Regions from separate parts of the Homo sapiens genome. Here region 2 is linked to region 1. A link means that fine-mapping ties the variant in region 1 to the expression of a gene that starts in the linked region. Tissue or cell type: whole blood. Region 1 holds a variant in brackets; the other region holds the start of a gene. All regions are shown on one strand. Distances are from middle to middle.

Region 1 (4,321 bases):
GTGCTGGGCACAGCCAGATAAAAGAGCACTTTTATGCTTCACACTTACTCTGAGGTGTGGTGGAAGTATTATTTTCTCCATTTTTCAGATGAGGAAAATGAGTTTCTGAGAGATGCATACTTGGCCTAAGGCCACACTCTAGAAATTTAGAAACTGATGAGATGTTGTAGGCATTTTATACCTAAAATTTTGAGTTATTCTCAAAAACTCTGGAAATTAGAACACAGGCAGGTGAGAAGGCAATGCTGGTCGGTGCTTTGGGGGTTCAGGAGGTACAGTGGCTCCCTGCTATCTCTGCAAGAGCCCCCTGAGCTGAATCAGGTGGCCTCATTGTTAGCTCAGTGCTTCATACGGCTTGGGGAAAGGGTCCATCCTGTGGGTTGTCCCCAGGCCTGGCAGTCCAGATGTGTTGCTTTAGAAAGATGTTTGAAAGTTCCAGCAATGCTTACCTCAGAATGAAAGGCAGAGAACCAGGATTCTTGTTTTTGCAACGTCTTCCATATGGCCTTGGCTCTCTCACAGGTAGGAAGGTGATTATGTTCACCTCCAAGGTCAGTCCTTCGCTGAGCCTCCAGATTCTGCCCATTTCTTCCCCTTCATCACTGATGTTGCTGTGCATTGAATCTCTCATAATCAGGATGATGAGACATAGCTTGGCAAACTAGTTCATTTTCTTAAGGCAGTTAAAATTTAATTATCCTGCTTGCAGAGAGGCCATAGATAGTTGAGTTGCATTTGCTGCCTATGCCTCATATAAATTTCGTTTTTTCCCCTAAAATTTAGTTTTTTTTAAAAAAGTCCATTCCATGTGTCAGGGCACATGGTCTGGAGTTGTCCTGGCACAAGACAGCCCCAGGTGTCTACCTGCAGACCTGCCAGCTGTCCCAGCCCATGGCTCACACACAGGCACACTCCCCTGCCACTTGTTTAAGGTTAAGGCATTGGTTTCTTTATTACTGCATTATGGGGAGCATTTTCCCGAAGAGTTAGTATGCTTGGGCCCACACTGTCACCGCAGAGAGGAATTTGTATATGAACAACATCATCTCCGTGTTTTTATTTAGCTGCTCCTTAATGAAAACCTTGGCTCCATTTTCCTGCTCACAAGGAACCTCTGATAGCATTTGCCTCTATGTTTGCAGTATTCTAGGTCTACCCTTCGCTCACAGCTGTTAAGCTGTTCTTAACTCAGGGTTAGGAATGTCAAGGCTATTCCCAAATCTATCATTTTTACTTGTCATGTGTCTCTAGCTACTTTCTGCTTTATTTTTTCTGTCGGGTTGATGATATCTTTTTCAAAACTTCAGTGGATGTTTTCCAAATTGCATAAACAGGCTATTTCTACTTGGCTGCTTTTCTGAAGCCTTCGCCTATCTGCACCCCCTTTTCCTTCTGATTGTATAATGTATAATCTCCATGCAGATACAGAAAGACATAGGTCTGCAGGGTGGATTGTGGTAGGTCTGGTTTCATTGGCAGAGAGCCATGCTTAACAGACACGCTCAAAATATTGCTATTCAAGCCGTAAATATTTTATTGATCACTTGGCCAACGCTGTCATATTTCCCAGGTGCTTTCCAGTGTCTACTGCTTGGGTGCAAGCCTGTCACTTGACACTTCAAATGTGGCTTATTACTGCCCCTTCCACTTTTCTCAATTGTTCTTTCTTGTAGCATTTAGTACTGTCTCTAAGAGTTGTGGAATATTGACCCAGATAGTGCTTTTAGACCCAAAGTAATATTAGAAATTTTAAGGCTGTTGGACTTCAGATCATAATGGTGTAGAGATAGAAAATCGTATAATTTACCACCCAAACTGGGATACCTTTGAGAGTGTAAAGGGGCACTATTAATAATTGCATCAGAATGACAGACATTAACTGGGGCTCTCCCCACAGATGAGGGCCACCCGAGTTAGACACTAAATTTGGTCAATCGTACTTTCTAGAATATCTTCTCTCAATTGCCAATTTCAGGGTTTAGACCATCTAAGTAAGCTAATAAGGCACGATTAAGAGTTTGAAGCCCTTTAAGTTTAGTATGGTTTTCCCCCAAACATGGATTATATTTTAAATTTGTTTCTCAGTGTCTGAGAAACCCAAATCAACCTCAGACAAGTTCACTTCAAGCATTTGAAACCTCTTGGTAGCTTTGGGTAGCTGTGATAAGCCATTTATTTTTGCTTTGCAAGGTTCTGTGGAGAAACTGTAAACTCTGCATGTAGTGTGCACGCGCG[C/T]GTGTGTGTGTGTGTGTGTGTGACAGAGAGATAAAATGAACTTTGAAGTAGAGGGACGTGTCTTCATTACACAAGTGAAGACAATTGCAATTTTTGTTTTGTTTTGTTTAAATGTTTATCGAAGATAAGAAATTTTACTTTGGGCTGAAAAGGGGCAAAAAAAATGTTGTGTTTTCTTTTTGTACCATTAAAGTGGGCAAAAACAAAAGCAAAAATAAAAAACAAGCCCTCAATTCTTTAGAAGGGGAGGAAAGGAATGGTGGATTCAATTGCAAAATTCTTTTTGAATTAAAAAAAGACAAGAATAAGAATGAGGACAGGAAGAGTAAGAAAGTATGAAAGAATGAATGAAAGGAAATTGTAAAACTAAAGATGAACGAATTTAAGTGATATTACATAGATTCTTGGAAAAGCTTTCATCTGGGCCAAGCATTACACCTGGTTAGGAATTCCAGGCTCAGGTGGCCCCATGGGCAGTTTTGGGTCTGTTGTTTCTACTCCTTGCCTGTGGTCATTTCTGAATACTTTAAATCCCTCATGGGTAGATGGGTGGTCAGGACAACTCAGATGAAGTCTTCCCTGGGTTCCAGGTGCTTCCATGGCAAAAAATGCAGGAGGACCAGTGTTTACATTTATGAAAATATGTGTGGATCAATGACTGTTGGTATTTTCTGTGTCTGTGAAGCTCTCTCTTGCAACAGTGTTAAGTTAGTTTCATAGGTCAGCTTCATGGGAAACAGGGGCACTTCTGAAGCATTTGAAGGAGGTGTAAGAACAGGGAAAGGATTATTTTCCATATAGAGAGCAGCGTGGGAAGAATGCTGCAAGTTTGGAATGAAAGAGATGCTTAGATAAACATGAAGGAAAAAAAACTTACTTGTAGAAAGGGATGAAGGAAGGAAGTAGGAGGCCAGGACCCAAAGAGCGTTTTGAACCTCAGGATGAATTTTGCCTTTGAAAGTAGGAATATTTAAGGGTAGAGCAGAGTTATTGAGTAAGCTTATGAGATAGGTAACTTTTTTTTTTTGGTTACTTTTCCTCCTACTCATACTGTTGTTAAAACCTCTGTATCAGTTTATCAGAATAAGCGTTAAACCTCAGAGAAGATGACAAAATCAATCAGGTACATATTTTCAAGGTACAAATGGAAAATAACCTCGGTCAGGCACAGGAATCTGCTAAGCCTGGTGAGTGTTTGTAGATACGGGTTTTTTGAAGTATCTAGGGTCTCCCACTATGTGCCAGGTGTTATACCTGTTCTCAATTAATTACTTTTTTTGTGTGCAATTAGAGTTGTGTGATGCGTTTAGAGTTGTGTGATGCATTAGTATCATTCATGTTCAGAATAAAAATGTGTTGTTGAGTCTGATTTTCTTTTTCTTTTTTGTAGAAATGAGGTCTCGCTATGTTGCCCAGGCTGGTCTTAAACTCTTGGCTTCAAACAATCTTTCCACCTTGGCCTCCTAAAATGTTGGGATTACGGGCATGAGCCACTGCCCCTGCCCAAGTCTGATTTTGAAATACCCTTTAAGAAATTTATCACAGGAAATTTTCAGTGAAAGAGTTTCCATGTAACCGACTTTTGTACTTCTAGTACCTACACATTTCTCCTATTTGATATCTTTTGCCAAAAATTTAAGTTAATTCCATACCTTATGCATCAGTTGTCTCACATCATTAAGACACGAAATAAATGCACAGAATGCAATGAAGAATCACAGATGATAAGGAAGACCTTACCGTATTTGTTCCTTACCAGTAGGAATAAATATTGTGTATGAAATAAACAGCATCCACTCTGTGAGGAGAATGTGGGCTGGAGAGTCGGGAGTGTTGGTCTCCAGCCACAGCTCTGCATCAGTATCTGTCTGTGTGACCTTAGGCAAGTCATTGCATTTTTATGCACCTCATTTTCTTCATCAGTCAAATAAATTCATTGGAATGACGACCTGTCAGATTTCTCCTAACAGTGACATCTTATGACTTTAGGTAACATTTAAAACAGCCAAGGCTTGGAGAGAGTGTAGACTGCCATTCAAGAGGTAGGCAACATGGGGATTTGCATCCTAATCCCCAAATTCTGTTA
Region 2 (4,160 bases), 72 kb before region 1:
CTTATTAGATATGTGATTTGCAATTTTTTTTCTCATTCTGTGGACTTCCCTTTCACTGTCTTAATAGTGCCCCTTGATGTACAACATTTTAAAACTTTGATAAAGTCCAACTTATCTATTTTTTCTTTTGTTGCCCAAGTTTTTTTTCCTGGGATAAGCTGTCATATCCCAGGAAATCATTGCTAAATCCAATGTCATGAAGTTTTCTTCTTTGATTTTTTCTAAGAATTTTATAATTTTCATTCTTATGTTCAGATCTTTGATAGATTTTTGTTAATTTTTGAGTATGGTGTAAGGTAGGAGTCCAATGTCATGCTCTTATATGTGGATACCCATCTAATGTTATATTTTTGAAAATACTGTTTAAAACAAAACTTACTGTTTTCCTGGGCATTCTCTAGGCAATTTATGACAGTGGTGGCTTATTTTGCACTATTAAGATTTCTAGTTTATGTTCTTCCACACCGTAAAAGGCCGTGTCAGAGGAGGGAGCTAAGGTCCTGAAGAGTTGCTTTCTATATAAACTCAGCATAGACAACTCCAGACTTCAGAACCCCTTGACAGCCACACTGTACACCCTTATAGAGCAAGAATCCAAGTCTTCTCAACTTTGTTTTTTTCAATTATCCTGCAAACATAGTGAATACAGTTGTAATTAGTTATGATTGGTATAATTGACCGTGGGCTCTTTAAATGGGGCAGTGTGCTGAAATTGACTGGGTTACAGGGGCAGGCTGAAGCTTCCCTAGCTCTCTTCATAGACTTCTTTTGTAGCATGTATTACATTTTTGGGGGGAGATCGTTGATTTATGTGTCTGTCTCCTCACTACAATGCAAACTTGCTATCTTTCTAGTGCCTAGAACAGTGCCTGGCACAGGCAATTTATTAAACTAAAGTGAACCAATAGCATTACCTCTTCCTTACTTCCAAGTTAATGTGCAAAGGCAGAAGATGAGCAGTAAAATCTTGCTTTACTTACAATGTCATCTTAACTGCATTGCCAGCTTTATACAATGAAGGCTGATGATGATATGGCTCCAAATGACAGTTATTAGATTTTCAAGGATTTTCTAAGTTTGTATCTTTATTAAAAAGAGAAAGAAGCCAACTATGACAAATCTTAACTCCCACCTCCTACTCAAAGAAGATGGAATCTTTTAGGATAAAAGTCTTAGATTAAGCAGCCAAATACTGACTTCTCAAAAAAAATTGTAATAACTCCATTCATAGAAATGAGATTATGCTGTAACATTCTTACCATAGTCCTGAATATGTGAATAAAAGATGCTGTGTATTTTCACTTAGGACAGATGTAAGATTTTCATATTGTTTACATTTTCCCTAAATGAGAAATGTATGAACACTTCTGCCCTTTTATTCCTGCACCACGGACCATGAGTCAGGGCTGCTAAAAGTATCCTTATTTTAGAGATTGCCTAAAACCAGACTTATATGAAAAGGGGATTTTTAGCTTTACTTTTCAGAAATCCCAAGTCCATATCCAGTCAGCTCTCTTCCACAAAATTATTTTCTTTTCTTTAGAAAATATCACATTTCATATCAAGTTATTAGAGAGAAACGGGAAGCCTGAGCAGGTGACTGGGTGGTGGACGTCCTGTGTTTCTAAAGCAATCCCTTTCCCTCACCTGAGACCTTGCCTAGGTTAATGGGGGCTCCATTGAGAAAGTCAAGGAACATGAAGCATGAATATTTACATATTCAGCAGAGAGTAAATGCATCAGCAAATGATGAGGTGAGATACAGTGTTATCCCACTGAACTAGTTCCCTTTTGCTCATCTCCCTCCCTGTTACTCTCCAAGGCTGAGTTATATTCAGCTGAAGCACAATTTGAAGAATACGAAATAATGTGTGATTTGGTGCCACCACTGTCAATCAACAGTGCTTTCCACCTAGACTGCTGTGCCTGTGCCAGTGGCTGCTGTCCTGGTGCCAGGGGCAAGAGGAAGACTGCCTTTTTTCCAGCTTTCCCTGGCTTGACCACACCCCCCAATTTAAGGAGGCAGCTCTATTAGAAACATTATGGTCTTTGCATCCTCTTAAGCTACGGAGCAGAGGATTCCCGCAGGTAGTTGGAAAGAGACCACAGACTTTGAGGGAAGCTCACTCAGGATCTGCTCTCCGGCAAAGTAGTAAGTGAGGTGTGTGTCAGTTTCTGCCTAAAACTTTTCAGTCCATTTTCCTTTTCCTGCTTTAAAAAAATTTCTGTGGAATTAAAGAGTAAGTCGGTAGGGAGATTCAGGATACAAGTGAGTTTTCTCTTTCTCTTTTCACGTCTTTCTATATTCCCATTTAATTGTTTAACAATTTTCAAAAATACTTCCTAACCTCGTCAGAATAGTCTGAAAGCAAGACTATGTTTTTAAAAATGTTCCCTGCTTCACAAAAGTAAAACCATGCACGTTTTAGATACCCGTAGATTACTTGTCAGAAACCCTGATTTTTTTTTTTTTTTTTTGCAAATTGGAGCACTTCCAAAGAAATAAAGCTGTAGTTAAATATATAAATTTCTTTTTATTCTCTTTCACTCCTAGTAAATCTATTGTTTTACTTTTTTCTCCTGCTAGTAGTTTAATGAATTGCTTTTAATAGAGAGGAAATTGCTACAGGTTTGAATCTTGCTAGCCAAACTAGCCTGTTTGGTGTTTTTCTCTGTCTTGGGACTGACCTGCAGTTGTCCAAAGATCTACAAGTTCCTAAGTCTGTTGTTGAGACATGGTGTGGGTGTGGGCCGCGGTTGTCTCAGAGTTAGGGAGGTATTTCTTGTCCCCACGGTAGAGCTGGACTCAGTGGCAGGAGATGTCGATGGCAATTCCTCTGCATCCGGTGATTTTATCTGGCCGTGACACTTTGTATGTGACTCCTCACCCACCGTTAAAGGTCTCTGTTACCAACTTTTAAAGTAGTATTTTCTTCAGGCAAACTTAAAAGGGTGCTGGGTCACTGAAATCAATGCATTCTATTGCAGGATTTCTTTATCACCTTTTGGGTAAGTTTTTGTTTTTAATCTCAAGTCCATTTTCCTTCTTACTTTAGACCACTGCCATGCAACTGAGAAAAAAGTATTTGTTAAACAGCAGGAAATACCAATTCTAAAATGATAACTCCATCAGCTCCATTTGATTTGTAAAATTACTGATACTATAACTCTTTCATCAGTTGTGGTTTTGGGTTTGGTGGCCTATTTTTATCCAAAGAGAAAACGCTTTTTCTTCAGGGGCCGTGGGCTGTGCACAAGGGCTGCAGGGTGGCCACTGCTGCTGTTGAGAGTCTTGCTCACCTGTTGTTCCTGAATGGAGGGAAGGGAGAGCTAATGGGTTAATGTCTGCAAAGTGCTTTGAAGATGAAAAGGTCTTTTCATGTGTTCAGTAGTGCAGTTATTAATATTAATATTTGAAGAAGCATGCTGCTTCTAATTGTAAATCAACTACTTCCATCCTTGCCAACTCAATAGTGAAATAACAAACAGTTCAGGCATCCATGCAGCCTCTTCCGTCCTGGTTCCGCTGCTGAGGATGTGGGAAGCCAAGCCGAGAGCCTAATTATGGAGGGGGCATCTTTGCCCGGCAGGCTCCTTACACGGAGGTGCTAGTTGCTGGCTGTGAAAGGATGTCCTGAGGCAGAGCCTGGGGGAAGCTGGTAGAGGGGTGGGATCCTTTGGCATCTGGCAGTCTGTGGCCAGAGCACCGACTTGGGCCAGTGGCCGGTCCCGGACGATAATGGAGTTCAAAGGCAAGTGGGGTCAGAACTTGAACCAGCGCTGGGTCGGAGAAGGGAAAGTGGCTGTGCACTTGGATTATGTCAGTGATTAGCTTTGTAACAGAGAACAGGGATTGAACGTGTCTGTGCCTTCTTCCCTTCATCTCTAAAAGGTGAGCAATCATTTGCGCCCCGCCTGGTTTACAAATATGAGAGAATAGAAGTAAACAGCATAGGGCTATGAAAAATCAGAGTGCCAGTGAGGTCAAGGACTGTCTGAAGTAATACTTCAACAAACTGGGTGTGTGGGTGCAGGTCCTCTCACCTAGGGGAGGGTGAGGCAGAAGGCAAAACACTGCAAACAAATAATCAACAGATTTCTCTCTTTGATTGCACTGGTGAATTTCTTACTGATAACTGAGGTTCTGATGTACCTTGTGA

The links. PIP is the estimated chance that this variant, and not a neighbour inherited with it, causes the effect.
Region 2: ETS1 starts here. The variant in region 1 is fine-mapped to the expression of ETS1 in whole blood (TOPMed, PIP 0.93).

What each region holds. Positions count from the first base shown.
Region 1 is chr11:128,513,189-128,517,509 of GRCh38, reverse strand. The region is part of intron 3 of ETS1 (ETS proto-oncogene 1, transcription factor); the gene reads left to right. Among named protein-coding and RNA genes, the nearest start is that of MIR6090, 7.0 kb to the left of the region's middle. The variant C/T (reference allele first, on the strand shown) is at 2,236.
Region 2 is chr11:128,585,489-128,589,648 of GRCh38, reverse strand. ETS1 (ETS proto-oncogene 1, transcription factor) reads left to right here and starts at 2,091. Exons shown (of 10, transcript NM_001143820.2): 1 at 2,091-2,161. It overlaps LOC105369565 (a long non-coding RNA gene), which reads right to left. Exons shown (of 5, transcript XR_948163.3): 4 at 2,689-3,309; 5 at 1-628. RefSeq lists a silencer at 1,932-2,138.